Linked DNA regions of Homo sapiens. The protein of the gene in region 1 interacts with the protein of each later gene in a pairwise test. Each region holds a gene or a part of one and is shown on either strand. Other genes may lie near its edges.

What was found. Proteins that work in one complex are often made in the same cells at the same time.
Region 2: the proteins of ATF7IP (region 1) and GTF2IRD1 interact in binary tests that used the Homo sapiens proteins (3 or more experiments, as listed by UniProt).

What each region holds. Positions count from the first base shown.
Region 1 is NC_000012.12:14,416,297-14,425,620, forward strand, and holds part of ATF7IP (activating transcription factor 7-interacting protein 1), read left to right. Parts: intron 1-550; exon of another isoform or gene 551-652; intron 653-1,671; exon of another isoform or gene 1,672-2,280; intron 2,281-2,917; exon of another isoform or gene 2,918-3,065; intron 3,066-7,612; coding exon of another isoform or gene 7,613-7,619; coding exon 7,620-9,177; intron 9,178-9,324. UniProt on the Homo sapiens protein: Recruiter that couples transcriptional factors to general transcription apparatus and thereby modulates transcription regulation and chromatin formation. Can both act as an activator or a repressor depending on the context.
Region 2 is NC_000007.14:74,596,205-74,604,728, forward strand, and holds the end of GTF2IRD1 (general transcription factor II-I repeat domain-containing protein 1), read left to right. Parts: intron 1-4,839; coding exon 4,840-4,976; coding exon of another isoform or gene 4,977-5,093; exon of another isoform or gene 5,094-6,090; intron 6,091-6,160; coding exon 6,161-6,229; 3' UTR 6,230-6,401; downstream 6,402-8,524. UniProt on the Homo sapiens protein: May be a transcription regulator involved in cell-cycle progression and skeletal muscle differentiation. May repress GTF2I transcriptional functions, by preventing its nuclear residency, or by inhibiting its transcriptional activation.

The sequences.
Region 1 (9,324 bases):
ATGAAAATAAACTCAAATTAAAATTATTTTCAGTAGAAAAATGAATGAAATTTTTATTCAGAAAAATGTTGTACTCTCAGGCAACAGCATGAATATAATTGGAATGCCTTTGTCAAAGATAGAAATGCCATGTCCACTTAAAAGGTTTTGCTTGATGTTTTCTAAGCTTTTGCTTTAGTTTTATTTTGAAGTATACTTCATCAGATATTCATTACTTTGAATTAATACAGCATTTGTTTTGTCTATGTGTTGTATATGCTTTTTGACCCAACAATCGTGGTACTTAGTTAAGTCTGTTCTTGGAAAGCAGTACAGACCCTAGTTTATTTAATCAAAGAAACCCTACCATGACCTGTTTTTCAAACAGAGCATCTAGAGTTATATTCCTAATGTTTCCATTTCATTGTTCACCTTGATTTTCACATCCTTTGCATTTTTAATAGAGCTCTTGCCCTCATCTTCTTCCCTTGTTGCTGGGCAAGGTTTGTGACACTGATGTCTGATTGGTTTTAGACTATTTCGGCTTTGAGCCAATCAGACAGTGAATTTCAGTTCTCTCACAGGACTGAAACATTGAAGCAGCTGTTGATATATTTTTCCTGTGGGGAGATTATATAAACTAAGAGTATGGCTGCAGCAAGCTCCCTCTTGGGTATGTTTGAAAAATTACAAGGTTCATCTGTAAGGAAGGGGGGAAATGAGGTTTATTTTTAAAACTTGGTTATTAAGAACACCTAATAAGTAGTGAATTTGAGAAAAAAATTCTGATAACAAATTTTCCATTTTTATTTTATAATCCTATATTTAAAGAACTATAGAATGGTGTAATATAATAAAAATGTCTTTAATTTTCATGAATATTTACTTTGTAATCCACACATTTGTTTTATAATAAAGCTTTGAAAGGATATCTCATATAACCTTTTGTAACTTGCTGCGAAAGGCAGTTAAGGAGAAAAGGATGTAGTAATTGTACTTATACCACTTAATATAGGTTGTCCAGAATCAGACATTTAGATTTCATTAGATGAATTAAACTAAGTCAGTTCAGTGCAGTAGACAGCACAACACTTCATAATACTATCCCTAGTAATCCTTTGGGTCCAGAATACTATTAATTTTTGGAATCGGAAATCTGTAACAATAGTGGTAGATGGGTATGAAGATTTTTTTTTTACTTGTCTGGATTTAAGGTTTTGCTAGATTTATATATTTTATATGTATGGTCTATGGAATTTTTAAAAAGAAATTTACATTTGAATTTTGCATTGTATAGAAAAATATGTTCTTACGTATATTGTCCATGTTTGACTTATTCCTCAGGTAGGAAATTAATTTATATTAATGTATATTTCTTGAAATGTTCATGGATATTTATTAAAGCAAATAGCATAAAAGATGTAAATCTTATCCATTTATGTGTGTGGTATATTTAATGCGTGTTACGTGGATTTAGGGTTTTATGTAAACTGTGTTCTAGATTACTTATTTCAAACAAAGAACCACACTTAAGTATTGCAGATACAGTTTTTGTTTAACTATGTTTTTCTGACCTTATTGTCTGTCTCCTGTTGCTGGGCAGGAATCAGAATGCTGGCTGCTGATTGGCTGAGTTTGTGAGCAGCTCTTGAACAGCCATTTAAATTCTTGAGCTTTTTGAGCAGGCAGATTGTAGGCTAAGACATAACAGCTTCCCTTTGTTGTTTCATTGCTATGATCTCTTGCTAGAAAGAAGTGGGTGGAGGGGGATGAAGCAGAGAAGAGAGTAATGTTTTCATTTAAAGAAGAAGCTCGTTGGGCTTTCCTTAAAAATATTTTAAAAATAATTTACCAAAAATTTGAAAAAAAAATTTCCAAGCCAGAGAGACTTATTTGCAGGTAACATACCCTTCTCTGGTTATTTAAATATAAATTTCTATAGAAAAAGGTTTTATTAGTGATATTATTTTCCCAGAGTTCTTGAATATACAGAGACTTAAAAAACATTATTTTGACTCTCATCCTCATGAAAAAAATACTTTCAGGAGAAACTAGTTCATCATGTTTTGCAGTTACTTTTAGACATGGCAGACATCTTCTGCCGTAAAATACCAATGCTTTTTTCTGTGAAAATGAATTACAGTCATGTGAAAGCTTTCTGATTTGAGTTGCCACCTAAAATACTAACATTTATTTTATAGAATAGTTTTATGAATGGCATCTTAGTTCTAGGCGACAGTACTAAAATGATCCTTGGAAGTGTTTTGCACTGGTATTACAGCCATGGAAACTTGTTTGCAGGTAACACACCCTTCTCTAATGTGTATCTTTCTCAAATATGCTTCGCTAATGCAAAATACATTTCTAAAAGCAGACTGCTGATTGGTTTGTACAGATATGGCTGAACTAGTTTGAACTAATTGTTCGTGTTACTTCCTTATTGCTTTGTCTGTTTTTTATTATATTTAGAACCCATAAGATCTGGTAAATGGCTGTAGTGTGCTCCCTTGTGGGTATGGATGGTAGTTATTCTATAATTCTTTTTAGAGTGCTTTATTATTACTGAAGTTAATGACAATTTTATTGATAAAATCAACTTTTCTTGAATTATATATTTTTATTAAATATTATTTGGTGGTGGCAATTTAATATTAACTGTGAGGTTTACATGTTGGATTTTCTAATTTATATAAAAAATACCAAAGAGGAATTTGTCTTAGACTCTTTAGTTTATTCCTAAAAACATTATCCTGAATATTTAGTTTATTCCTAAAAACGTTATCCTGAATATATAGATGGTGATGGTTATACCATTTATTGAGTTCTTACTACATTCCAAGTGCTTAATGTATAGAATCTCATTTAGTTCTCATGGCAACCTTTGTGACAGGTGTTGGTATTAGTCCCTTTTTAAGGTAACCAAAACTAAGAAATTGATGTTAGGTAATTTGCCCAGTCTCACACAGTAGGTTTCCTGGGAGAGTTGGAATTCAAATCTGTGAATCTGTCTACAGTCTACAGAGTTCATGTTCTTAATTGGGTTATTAAAAGTGATGAATTTTTTTAAAGGAATGCTTACTTTTAATGTAAGAGTTCATGTTCTTAATTGGGTTATTAAAAGTTATGAATTTTTTAAAAGGAATACTTTTAATGCAATTGGTAATAACTACCAGCTGTCCATCTAATATCTGAGAAATGCGGATATTATGAGGCTAAAGTTCAAAAGAATGGCCTTTCAGTATTTTGAAATACTTAAAGGGTAACTATACTACTTATATTATAAACTTAATTATTTTGTAGTTTTGGAATTAGTAAGGAAAAGTGACAGCAAAATACAATGCATTGTATCTGTATCTTTTGCAGAAAATTTTGCAGTTAGCAAAACTTTGTAATGATGGGAAGGGAAAAACCTTGAAGGTGTGAAATTTTAGTCTGTAATTAAAAACCCTTAACATAATGTTTTGTATTATATTATACAAATTTTGTATAATTTTGTATTAAGGTTTTGTATTATTATATATACATTTTGTATTAAGGTTTCTGTTTAAATGAAGAGTAATTTTTCTAAATAGTTGATTTAGTTATATAATTTAAATAAAATGGCTAGAATAAGAAATATGTTCTAAGTAATTGGCTTAAAGTGAGAGAATGAATACAGAATGTATCACAGTCTAGAAATTCTCTGACAAAGTGCTAGAATCTCAAGCTGAATTGGCTTCCAGCAAGTAGGCTAGGCTTATTATTTTATGCGCTTCAGCCAAAGACCAGCAGGAACACCTTTGTAATTGAAAAAGTTAGGTTTACTATTTGCTGCAGGGAGGAAATAATGTTCACTATGGGGAAACTGTAAGGCACATCAATCAGTAAGAGGATGTTAGAAAAAACCTAGTATAGGATTTGAGTATAGTATAGGTTGGGTTATTTTGGGGAGAGATTAAGGAAGTAGATCCTTATCGTGGATTGGGTGACATCAGAAAGTGGGGGCACTTCTATTCTTGGGTATCTCAATAAATTTTATCTATATAGGGAGGACAGACTATTACAAGATAAAGCTGTAATTGATAAAGAAGTTGGCCTGGTGTGGTGGCTCACACCTGTAATCCCAGCACTTTGGGAGGCCGAGGCAGGTGGATCACGAGGTCAGAAGATCAAGACCATCCTGGCTAACACGGTAAAACCTCATCTCTACTAAAAATACAAAAAATTAGCCGGGCGTGGTGGCGGGCGCCTGTGGTCCCAGCTACTCGGAAGGCTGAGGTAGGAGAATGGCATGCACCCAGGAGGTGGAGCTTGCGGTGAGCCGAGATCACGCCACTGCACTCCAGCCTGGGCGACAGAGCGAGACTCCGTCTCAAAAAGAAAAAAAAAATAAAGAAATAGCCATCACTCATTTAGTGAGGGGGGATGTTTGGAATTTTGTGGGTTGCACAGTGACCTTGTCTGACTTGAATGTTCTCTGAGTTGGTTTTATGTCCAACCAGAGAACAGCATGGCTTAACTGTAAGCATCAGATCCATTAACAACATTGAGCCCTAACTGTGAGTATCAGTTAAGTTTCCAGGCATCAGGGGCTGCTTTTCTTTCTTTCTCAGGCCAAAGCAAATGTATTCTACCATATCATTCCTACTGGTGATGGTAATGGTAAGTGACTATCCAATGTGAAAACAGTATTCCTGCCTCCTGTACATCTTAGTCCTTAAAGCAATTTTGTTTTATTCTACTATTGATTGATGACATTGTTTTTCTTCAGAACCACATCCTTGTGCTCTTTTGTTTGCCTTTATTGCACTGGCCAGATGTTAACAAGGAAATGGTTACAGGAAACATCCTTGTTTTCTTCTGATCCTATTTCAATATCAGACATGATATCTCTAGTTTTCTTGGTAGATAACCTTTATCAGATTTGAGTAAGTTTCCTTGTATTCTTAGTTTCTGGCAAGTTGTAATTATGCATCAGTCTTGAATTTTGTCAAATGAATATTCTGTATTTGTTGAGGTAATCCTTTGTTGATTTTGTCCCTCTGTTCTGTTTATGTGGTGAATTAAATAGCTTGATTTGTTTTGTGGTTTTCTTTTTTGCTTAACAGAAGTTTATCGTCTCAGAGTTCTGGAGGCAACACATTTGAAATCACGGTGTTGTCATTGCCATTCTCCCTCTGAGGGTGCTGAGGGAAGGATCTGTTCCAGGCCTCTCTCCTAGCTTCTGGTAGTTGCTTGGCTTGTGGTACCATAACTTCAATTGTCACATGGCATTCTCCCAGTGTGCATGTCTGTCTGTGTCCAGATTTTCCCCTTTTTATAAGGACACCAATTGTATTGGATTAGGGCTCACTTTAGTACCCTTATATTACCTTGATTACCACTGTAAAGGCCCTATCCGAATAAGGTCACATTCTGAGGTACTGGGGCTTAAGACTAATATCTTTCTGGGGATGTGGGGTGTGGGATGCTGCACAATTCAGTCAGTAACATCCTGGTACCAGACATTCAGTTTAGGCAAAACTCGTAATTGTACACTCTGCTGGGCATGAAATAAAGTCAGAATGCATCATGGCTTGTTCATGGTCAACACTGCTTGATTTTTGAATGTGAAATCAGCCTTGTATTTTTCTAAGCGAGCTTCACTTGGTCAGAATTCATTACCTTTTTAAGAAACCTACTTCTAAATAAGTCATAGATGAAAGAAGAAATCATGATGGAAATTAGAAAATATTTTAACAGAATAATGTAAATGACACATTAAAATGTGAGATGCAACTAAAGCAGCTCTTAGAGGGAAATTTATAGCTTTATATGCACACATTACAAAAGAAGAAAGATTGAAAATAACACTTAAGCTTGAATCTCAAGGAAAAGGATGACATGTTAAGCTCTTTCCAAGAAAAAGTAAGTGAAAAGAGATAATAAATATTAGAGTAAATAATTAAAACAAGAAAGCAGATATAAAACCAAGAAATATCAGCCAAGTAAAGGTTCATACTTTAATAAGTGAATAGAATTGATAAAACTGTAGCACAACTTACCAAAAAAAGAGAATACACACACACACACACACACACACACACACACACACACACACACAACCTTTGTATTTATTTTGAAATTTTTTTGTAGTGGCATTACTGAGATAAAACCACATATCTACTATTCACCCACTTAAAGTACAATTCAGTTATTTTTAGTATATTCACAGAGCTGTATAATCATCACCATAATCAATGTTAGAACATTTTCATAACCCTGTAAAGAAATCCTGTACCCTTTAGCAGCTACTCCTCATTTTCTCCAGAATCTTCCAACCCTAGGTAGTCACTGATTTACTTTCTGTCTCTAGATTTGCCTACTCTGGACATTTCATATAAATTGAATCATTCAGTATGTGGCCTTTTGTGACTGGCTTCTCTCACTCAGCATATTTTTAAGGTTTATGCATGTAGTAGCATGTTCAGTACTTCATTCCCCTTTGTGGTTGAATGATATTCTGTTGTAGGGGTATGGCACATTTTATTTATCCATTCATCAGTTATGGAACATTTAGGTTGTTTCCAGTTTTGGGCCATTATGAGTAGTGCCTCTATAGAGCATTTGTGTACAAGTTTTTGTGTGGACATATGTTTTCATTTCTCTTGGGAAATGAATGGAATGGAATCACTGGGTCATATGACAACTCTGTACTTCACATATTGTGGAACTGCCTGTTTTCCAAAGCAGCTGCACCTATTTGCAATCCCACTATCATTGTATGAAAGTTCCAGTTTTTTCACATCCTTGCCAACACTCATTATTCTCGTTGATTGTAGCCGTCCTGTCGTGTGTGCAGTGTTATTTCATTGTGGTTTTGACTTGCGTTTCCCTGATGTCTCATGATGTTTATTGCTTATGGACTTTTGGCTTAGGGGTCTCTTTCTGGAAATGTCTGTTCAAGTCCTTTGACCATTTTTAAATTGGGTGATTTATTATTGAATTATAGCAGTTCTTAGATATTCTAGATATAAAAGTCTGTATTCTATATAAATATATATTCTGTATTCTAGATATGAAATTCTAGATTCGAGATAAAAGTCTTATCAGGCATATGATTTGCAAATATTTTCTCCCATTGTTGTGAATTTTCTTTCTTGATGGTAATCTTTTGTTAATATGTTTATAGTTCTGCCAATCTAAGTATGCTTGGTTGCAAATGTAATCTTTCCTTACATGTTTCTTAATTCTTCCTCCTTTTTCCTTTATCTCTATACCTGTTATTTCCCTACTGTTGTTCTTACACTTTTATTTTTCTTTCTCATTTTCTTCAGGTACTTTTTTTTTTTTTTTTTTTTTTTTACTTTATCTACCTTTTTTTTGCTTAAACATCTCCATACTCTGTGAATTCCATATTGGAAAAAAAAACTTGTCCCTTTTCCCCCTAATACTTTCTAGTTGATTTTCTAGTAGACTATGGCCATTTTTGATTTTGTATTACACAGATGCAGTAAATATGATAATTAGTATACAACAAGCAGTAGGTTTTCTATGTCTTAAACATTACATGAAATGTGCTGCTTGCATCTCTTCTAAGATCAATTTGTATTAAGTCTACAATTAGGTGGCTTCTGTTTCAGTTATTAAACTCTCTTTCTCTTTTTTCTTAAAGATTCAGAATGGACAGTTTAGAAGAACCTCAGAAAAAAGTCTTTAAGGCTCGAAAAACGATGAGAGTGAGTGATCGTCAGCAACTTGAAGCAGTGTACAAGGTCAAAGAAGAACTGTTGAAAACTGATGTCAAGCTGTTAAATGGCAACCATGAAAATGGAGATTTGGACCCAACCTCACCTTTGGAAAACATGGATTACATTAAAGACAAGGAAGAGGTGAATGGCATTGAAGAGATTTGTTTTGATCCTGAAGGAAGTAAAGCAGAATGGAAGGAAACACCCTGTATCCTAAGTGTTAATGTAAAAAACAAGCAGGATGATGATTTAAATTGTGAACCTTTGTCTCCCCATAATATAACTCCAGAACCAGTCTCTAAACTGCCTGCTGAACCAGTTTCTGGTGATCCAGCCCCTGGTGATCTGGATGCCGGAGATCCAGCCTCCGGAGTACTGGCCTCTGGTGATTCCACCTCTGGTGATCCCACCTCTAGCGAGCCCTCCTCTAGTGATGCTGCCTCTGGTGATGCAACCTCTGGTGATGCCCCTTCTGGTGATGTGTCCCCTGGTGATGCCACCTCTGGTGATGCCACTGCTGATGATCTCTCCTCTGGTGATCCCACCTCTAGTGATCCCATCCCAGGTGAACCGGTCCCTGTTGAACCCATTTCTGGTGATTGTGCCGCTGATGATATAGCCTCTAGTGAAATAACTTCTGTTGATCTGGCTTCTGGAGCACCAGCTTCCACTGATCCAGCCTCTGATGATCTGGCCTCTGGTGATCTATCCTCTAGTGAACTGGCCTCTGATGATCTGGCCACTGGTGAACTGGCCTCTGATGAGCTGACTTCTGAATCAACCTTTGATCGTACCTTTGAACCAAAGTCTGTACCAGTTTGTGAACCAGTTCCTGAAATTGACAATATAGAACCAAGTAGCAATAAAGATGATGATTTTCTTGAAAAAAATGGAGCTGATGAAAAATTAGAGCAAATTCAGAGTAAAGACTCATTGGATGAGAAAAATAAAGCTGATAATAATATTGATGCTAATGAAGAAACTCTAGAAACAGATGATACAACTATTTGTTCAGATCGACCTCCTGAAAATGAAAAGAAGGTAGAGGAAGATATTATCACAGAGCTTGCTCTTGGAGAAGATGCTATATCTAGCAGTATGGAAATTGACCAAGGTGAAAAGAATGAAGATGAAACTTCTGCAGATCTTGTAGAAACGATTAATGAAAATGTTATTGAAGATAACAAAAGTGAGAATATCTTAGAAAATACAGACTCTATGGAGACAGATGAAATCATTCCTATTTTGGAAAAGCTTGCACCTTCTGAGGATGAACTTACTTGCTTTTCTAAAACATCTCTCCTTCCAATCGATGAGACAAATCCAGATTTGGAAGAGAAAATGGAAAGTTCTTTTGGTTCACCATCTAAACAAGAAAGTAGTGAGAGTTTGCCAAAAGAAGCCTTTCTGGTCCTCTCTGATGAAGAGGATATTTCGGGTGAAAAAGATGAGTCTGAAGTTATATCGCAAAATGAAACGTGCTCTCCAGGTTAGCATATAACTTAAATGTTAAAGATTTTTTATTGACTTTGATGAACTGTTTAATAAAACATTATCATAATGTTTTAAATTTATTTTAGCTGCAGAGAAAGTTGAGAATGGTGATGACTCTATAGAAAGATGTCTTAACTTCATA
Region 2 (8,524 bases), on another chromosome or scaffold:
TAATCCCAGCACTTTGGAAGGCTGAGGTGGGTGGATCACCTGAGGTCAAGAGTTCGAGACCAGCCTGGTCAACATGCTAAACCCTGTCTCTATTAAAAATACAAAAATTAGCCAGGCATGGTGGCACGTGCCTGTAATCCCAGCTACTTGGGGGCTGAGGTAGGAGGATCGCTTGAACCTAGGAGACAGAGGTTGCAGTGAGCCAAGATTATGCCACTGCACTCCAGCCTGGGCAACAGAGCAAGACTCTGTCTCAAAAAAAAAAAAAAAAAGAAAAAGAAAAAAAAAATTAGCCTGGCATGGTGGTGCACGCCTGCAGTCCCAGCTACTTGGGAGTCTGAGGTGGAAGAATCACTTTAGTCCAGGAGGCAGAGGTTGCAGTGAGTCGAGATCACACCACTGCACTCCAGGCTGGGTGACAGAGCAAGACTCTGTCTCGAAAAGAAAAAGAAAAAGAAACACTGATTGGCCAGGTGTGGTGGCTCACGCCTCTAATCCCAGCAATTTGGGAGGCCTAAGTGGGAGGACTGCTTGAGTCCAGGAGTTTGAAACCAACCTGGGCAACGTAGTGAGATCTTGTCTCTACAAAAAGTTTTTTCTCCCATCCAAGTACTAACCAGGCCCGACCCTGCTTCAGTTCTGAGATCAGGCAAGATCGGGTGCATTCAGGGTGGTATGGCTGTGGACCAAAAAGGTTTTTCTAAAAATTAGCCAGGCATGGTAGTAGGCACTTGTAGTCCCAGGAGGCTGAGGCTGGAGGATCACTTGAGCCCAAGAGTTTAAGGCTGCAGTGAGCTATGATTATGCCATCCTGCCTGGATGACAGAATGAGACCCCATCTCTTTTTTTTTTTTCCGAGACAGCGTCTCACTCTGTCGCCCAGGCTGGAGTGCAGTGGTGTGATCTCGGCTCACTGCAACCTCCGACTCCCGGGTTCAAGTGATTCTCCTGCCTCAGTTTCCCAAGTAGCTGGGATTACAGGCGCCTGCCACCACGCCCAGCTATTTTTTTGTATTTTTAGTAGAGACGGGGTTTCTCCATATTGGCCAGGCTGGTCTCGAACTCCTGACCTCATGATCTACCTGCCTCGGCCCCCCAAAGTGCTGGGATTACAGGCGTAAGCCACTGCTACCGGCCTTTTTTTTTTTTTTTTTTCTTTCAAGACAGAGTCTCACTCTGTCACTCAGGCTGGAGTCAATCTTGCGATCTTGGCTCACTGCAACCTCCGCCTCCTGAGTTCAAGCAATTCTCATGCCTTAGCCTCCCGAGTAGCTGGGACTTCAGGCATGCACCACCACACCCAGCTAATTTTTTGTATTTTTAGTAGAAGTGAGGTTTCACCATGTTGGCCGGGCTGGTCTCAAACACCTGACCTCAAGTGATCTTCCCACCCCAGCATCCCAAAGTGCTGGGATTACAGGCGTGAGCTACTGTGCCTGGCCGAGACCCCGTCTCCTAAGAAATAAAAAAGAAGAAGAAAGAAAAAATACTGATCTAATCTTACCCCACCTCATTGTACAGCTGGGAAGCTGAGGCACAGAGATGCCCAGGGACTTGCCCAGGCCACATAGTGAGTCAGATGCTGTGTAGACCCTGCTCTCAGGACCACCCATCTGAACCATAGACCACCGTGGGCCACACGGCCCAGTATGGCTGCTCAACAGGGACAGTGATAGGATTCAGCAAGTCCACGCCACAACCTTACCTGAGACCCAAGGCCCTGACTCCTGTCAGGACCAGGTTCACCTGGAACTCCACAGCCTGGGGTGGCACAGCCCAGCTAGAAGCCACCTCCTTCCATCAAGAGCTAGTCACAAGCCTGGGCCATAAAGTGAGACCCTCCCTCCGTCTCTGCAAAAAAATTAAAAATTAGCCAGGCGTGGTGGCGCGTACCTGTTGTCCCAGATAGTCAAGAGGATGAGGCAGGAGGAGTGCTTGAGGCCGGAAGGTGGAGGCTGCAGTGAGCTATGATTGTGCCACTGCGCTCCAGCCTGGGCGACAGAGTGAGACCCTGTTTCCAAAAAAAAAAGAGCCAGTTAAAAGGGTCAGGTCTGGCACTGAACACACGGATCTGGAGGCGATTTGGTTTACTCTCAGGTCAAAGGCAGAGAGGAGGCCAGTCGCGGTGGCTCACGCCTGTAATCCCAACACTTTGGGAGGCTGAGGCAGGGAGGCAGGTGGATCACCTGAGGTCAGGAGTTCAAGACCAGCCTGGCCAACATGGTGAAACCTTGTCTCTACTAAAATCCAAAAAAAAAAAAATTAGCCGGGGGTGGTGGTGGGCGCCTGTAATCCCAGCCGCTCAGGAGGCTGAGGCAGGAGAATTGCTTGAACCCAGGAAGCGGCGGTTGCAGTGAGCTGAGATCACACTACTGTACTTCAGCCTGGGGAACACAGCCAGGCTCTGTCTCAAAAAAAAACAAAACAAAACATGGCAGAGACACAGAAGGCCACATGAAAGCCTCAGGAGGATTTGGGACAGATGCCCAGAGGGTGGATACTGTCACCCACATCCACCACTCCCTCCAATGTGGCCATCTCTCATGGTGATTCAAGGATGGCCACAGCCCATGGACCAGTCTGAGACAGAGGGTGGGGCAGCCTCTGACTTCTTTTTCATGTGGAATCTCCCACAAAAATCCCTCTGACTCATAGCCTGGGCTCCTCCTGCCTCCAGGGTCTTCTCTTTCGCAGGGTCTCTATGCCTCACCACAGACCCCCAGTTTCTGACTTCTCCACCAGTTGAAGAGACATTTGCCCCATGGACCCAGCCTGCCCTTACTCTGTGTCATTAAGACCCTTCCGGTGGGCTGAGTGCAGTGGCTCACGCCTGTAATCCCAGCACTTTGGGAGGCTGAAGCAGGAGAATTCTTTGAGCCCAAGAGTTCAAGACCAGACTGGGCAACATACAGAGACCCCGTCTCTACAAAAAATTAGCCAGGCAGGGTGGTGTGCACCTGTAGGGAGGCTGAGGCAGGAGGATCACTTGAGCTTGGGAGGTGGAGGTTGCAGTGAGCCAAGACCACACCACTGCACTCCAGCATGGGTGACAGAGTGAGACCTTGTCTCAAAAAGACAATAAAAGCCCTTCTTTATTGGGCTGGGCGAGGTTTCCATGCAGTAATCCATCCAATCAGGACGTGCTGCTCAAAGTCTTACATCTTCACCTCAAGTTAATCCAGCAACCACAGAACACCTGCTGACCCCTCCTCCGTGCTGAACTAGGTGCTGGGTTCTTTTATGCATGCGGTGTTTTTTGAGTCTCACATCACACTGGTTTCCCCATTTGACTCAGAGAGGTTCATCAGTTTTCCCAGATTCACACAGTGATAATAGTAAGTGGCCACAGTGAAATTTGAACTTAGGACTTCTGATTCTAAACCAGAGTTTCTTTCACTGGGGCACTGCCTGTCTACTTGGACCTGTGAACTCTCCACTCAGGACCACCATACATTAGTGATAACCATAGCAATACAATTTTTTTGTATTTTGGTAGAGACAGGGTTTCAACCTTCACCATGTTGCCCAGGCTGGTCTCGAACTCCTGACCTCAGTCAATCCACCCACCTTGGTCTCCCAAAGTGCTGGGATTACCAGTGTGAGCCACTGCGCCTGGCCCCAGGTCCTCTTTATACCCTCCCTGGACAACCTAGCCTGCAGTTCCAGCCTCCCCAGAACTCCCAGAGCCTCTCCTGGGGTCCCACATCCCCTCACAGCCTTAAAGAGCCCAGGAAAGAATGTGGCCTCCGGAGCCACGCAGACTTGGCCTTGGAGAAAGTCCTTTAACAGCCCTGCCCCTTCGGGTGCTCGTGAGTGAAATGTGAATAGGATCTTGGAGGGTTGCTGGGAGGATCCCAGCAGACAATGTGCAAAGCATTTAGCACAGTGCCCAGCACCCAGAAAATACTCAGAAACTGAGAATGCGATTAATATTGTTGCCATGAGCCAGGCACGGTGGCTCATGCCTGTAATCTCAGCATTTAGGGAAGCTGAGGCAGGAGGATTGCTTGAGGTTGGGAATTGGAGACCAGCCTGGGCAACATAATGATGCAGAAATACAAAAAGTTAGCCAGGCATGGTGGCGCGCACGTATAGTCCCAGCTACTCGGGAACCTGAGGTGGGAGGATTGCTTGAGCCCAGGACTTGGAAGCTGCAGTGAGCTACGATTGCACCATGGCACTCCAGCCTGGGCAACAGAGTGAGACCCTAAAAAACAATATAGGCCAGGTTCGATGGCTCATGCCTATAATCCCAGCACTTTGGGAGGCCGAGGTGGATGGATCACTTGAGGTCAGGAGTTCAAGAGCTGCCTGCCCAACACGGTGAAACCCCATCTCTACTCAAAATACAAAAAAATTAGCTGGACGTGGTGGCAGACACCTATAACCCCAGCTACTTGGGAGGCTCAGGCACTAGAATCGCTTGAACCCAGAAGGCAAAGGTTGCAGTGAGCCAAGATCGCGCCACTGGACTCCAGGCTGGGTGACAGAGCGAGACTCCATCTCAAAAAACCAGAAAGAGAGAGGACCTAGGGCCTAAGGGGTGAGCTTGCTGGGGAGGAGGAGGGACACATGGGGATGAGGATACGGTGTTAGCAAAGGCAGGCAGGCCAGCAAGAGCAGGAGGCCGGGGAGAGTGGGCCCTCGGGCTTGCTTTGGGAAGGAGGCTGGACATGTGGGCTCTGGACAGGTGGGCCCTGACCCCCAGGGGATCAGGAGCCTGAAATCCTGAAAGGGGGACTCGAAACCTTAAGACAGAGCACTTTTCCAGGGAGCTCAGGAGGCTGAGACAGAAAAGCCTCAGCTTCCAGTGTCAACAGCCTTTTCCCCTCCTTCCAGCCAAAGACAGCAGCATTCCCAAGCGCAAGAGAAAGCGGGTCTCGGAAGGAAATTCCGTCTCCTCTTCCTCCTCGTCTTCCTCTTCCTCGTCCTCTAACCCGGATTCAGTGGCATCGGCCAACCAGATCTCACTCGTGGTAAAGTTGCACCGATTTGGACTCCGGCACTCATCTCTGTGGCCCTCACCCCTCTGTCTGGCAGGGCCGTCTACTCTGGGATGTGGGCCCAGGGGACGGGGAGGCACTGGGCTTTGAGTGGGGACCTTCCGGCCTCGGGGGTTATAGATGCATCCACCTGTCTCACCCAAGAGGTAGCCCATCCTTCTCGTGGGGTACTCACAGGCACTCAGGCAGGAATTCACATCCTCGCTGGGCAGATGGGCCGGCTGAGGTCCACCTGCCCACACCCTTCAGCCGCACCAGAGCTGGAGACATGAAAAGACATGGCTGGCGGGTGCAGTGGCTCACGCCTGTAATCCCAGCACTTTGGCAGGTCAAGTCGGGTGGATCACCTGAGGTCAGGAGTTTGAGACCAGGCTGACCAACACGGGGAAACCCCATCTCTACTAAAAATACAAAATTAGCCGGGCAAAGTGGGGCATAGTGGCTCATGCCTGTAATCCCAGCTACTTGGAAGGCTGAGATAGGAGAATCGCTTGAACCTGGGAGGCAGAGGTTGCAATGAGCCGAGGTCGCGCCATTGCACTGCAGCCTGGGCAACAAGAGTGAAACACTGTCTCAGAAAAAAAAATTAGCCAGGCATGGTGGCACGTGCCTGTGGTCGCAGCTACTTGGGAGGCTGGGGCAGGAGGATCATTTGAGCCCAAGGGGATTGAGGCTGCAGTGAGCCAAGATCGTCCCATTGCACTCCAGCCTGGGCAAGAGAACGAGACTCCATCTCAAAAATAAATAAATAGGCTGGGTGTGGTGGCTCACGCCTGTAATCCTAGCACTTTGGGAGGCCGAGGCAGGCGGATCACTTGAGGCTCAGGAGTTCAAGACCAGCCTGGCCAACATGGCAAAACCCCGTCTCTACTAAAAATAGAAAAATTAGCCGGGCATGGTGGCGGGCGCCTATAATCCCAGCTACTCGGGAGGCTGAGGCAGGAGACTCGCTTGAACCCGCGGGGCCAAGGTTGCAGTGAGCCGAGATTGCATCACTGCACTCCAGCCTGGGCAGAAGAGTGAAACTCCATCTCAAAAAAATAAAAAATATAAATAAATAGCCTCTGAGAAAGCTCTTCCAAAAGCAGAACTAAGCATTTTGGGTTTGTTCCGCATCACCTGGAGTCCTAATCCAGTCCCTTTGTCCCTCTCTCTAGCAATGGCCAATGTACATGGTGGACTATGCCGGCCTGAACGTGCAGCTCCCGGGACCTCTTAATTACTAGACCTCAGTACTGAATCAGGACCTCACTCAGAAAGACTAAAGGAAATGTAATTTATGTACAAAATGTATATTCGGATATGTATCGATGCCTTTTAGTTTTTCCAATGATTTTTACACTATATTCCTGCCACCAAGGCCTTTTTAAATAAGTAAAAAAAGAAAAAAAAAAAAAAGAGTGTTGCCTTTACTTTTACGGTCACTGTTTCATGTTCTCTTTTGGATCGTGGCCGCAGCTGTCACTGGGGACAGGGTCAGGAAACGCAGCTCAGGTGGCCTGCCAAGGCCCTCCTTCTTCATCACAGCAGAGGTAGTGTCCAGGAAGACCCCAGAGCTCTCTGTGCTCCTGGGAGCACGTGACCTCAAGAAGAAAAGCCACGGAAGGAAAATGTGCCACGGGGCCGGGCGTGGTGGCTCATGCCTGGAATCCCAGCACTTTGGGATGTCGAGGTGGGTGGATTGCTTGAGGTCAGGAGTTCGACCTCATTGGCCTGTAATACCGATGCTTTGGGAGGCCAAGGTGGGAGGATTGCTTGAGACCAGGAGTTTGAGATGAGCCTAGGCAACATAGTAGAACCCTTTCTCTAGAAAATGTTAAATGTGGCTTACACCTGTAATCCCAGCACTCTGGGAGGCTGAGGCGGGTGAATCACCTGAGGTCAGGAGTTTGAGACTAGCCTGGGCAACATAAGGAGACCCCGTCTGTACGAAAATGCAAAAATGAGGCCGGGCATGATGGCTCATGCCTGTAATCCCAGCACTTTGGGAGGCCGAGGCGGGTGGATCACCTGAGGTCAGGAGTTCGAGACCAGCCTGGCCAACATGGTGAAACCCCATCTCTACTAAAAATGCAAAAATTAGCCAGGTGTGGTGGCGGGAACCTGTAATCCCAGCTACTCAGGAGGCTGAGGTAGGAGAATCACTTGAACCTGGGAGGCAGAGGTTGCAGTGAGCTGAGACCACGCCATTGCACTGCAGCTGGGGCAAGAAGAACAAAAGTCCGTCTCAAAAAAACAAAACAAAAGCACAAAAATTAGCCAGGCGTGGTGGTGCACACACCTGGAGTCCAGCTACTCAGGAGGCTGAGGCAGGAGGAGGATTGCTTGAGTAAAGATGGTTGAGGCTGTAGTGAGTCATGATTACACCACTGCACTCCAGCCTGGGCGACAAAGCAAGACCCTGTCTCAAAAAAAAAAAAAAGTGTTAAATATGGTAAATGTCAGAGAGGGAGGGGCCCATCCCAGTGAAGCACTGTGGCTGGATGGGAGGCTTCTTCAAAAAGGGGTTTGGAGACCAGGTGCGGTGGCTCACGCCTGTAATCCCAGCACATTGAGAGGCCAAGGTGTGCAGATCGCCTGAAGTCAGGAGTTCGAGACCAGCCCAGCCAACATGATGAAACCCTATCTCTACTAAAAATACAAAAAAATTAGCCAGGTGTGGTGGCGCGCAACTGTAATTCCAGCTACTTGGAAGGCAGAGGCAGGAGAATTGCTTGGACCCAGGAGGCAGAGGTTGCAGTGAGCCGAGACTGTACCATTGCACTCCAGCCTGGGCAACAAGAATGAAACTCCATCTCAAAAAAAAAGGGGGGTGGGGTGGGGGCAGGACAAGTTTTCTTTTTTCAGAGGCAAGTTCTTTCTGTGTCCCCAGGCTGGAATGCAGTGGCACGATCATATCTTCCTGCAGCCTCAAACTCCTGGGCTCAAGTAATCCTCCTGCCTCAGCCTCCAGAGTAGCTGGGACTACAGGTGTGAGCCACCACACCCAGCTAATTTTTTGATTTTTTTGTAGAGATGGGGTCTTGGGTTATGTTGCCCAGGCTGGCTGCAAATTCCTGGGCTCAAGCCATCCTCCTGCCCCAGCCTCCCAGAGTGCTGGGATTAGAGGCGTGAGCCACCATGCCCAGCCTGGGATGATTTTGGATAGAGCTCTGGATACCTGACAAGCAGAGTGATGGGGTCCCAGCTGTGTCTCAGAAAGACCACTTTAGGGGCAGGTGGGAAGTTGAAGGAAGGGACAAGACTGAAGGCAGAAAGACAAGTCACAAGAGCGTGGCAGGCGTCCAAGGCCTGGCACCCAGTCCCTGCTTATTGGGTGACACATATTTACTGAGCCCTGCCCTTCTGGCTGGGGAGGCCAAGCAGCTGAGTGTCCTAATTGGGGAGGCAGCTGCCAGGGAGTACAAAACAGAGTAGGGCTGGTGCGGTGGCTCAGGCCTGTAATCCCAGTGCTTTGGGAGGCCAAGGTGGGAGGATCGCTTGAGGCCAGGAGTTCAAGACCAGCCTAGACAACATAGTGG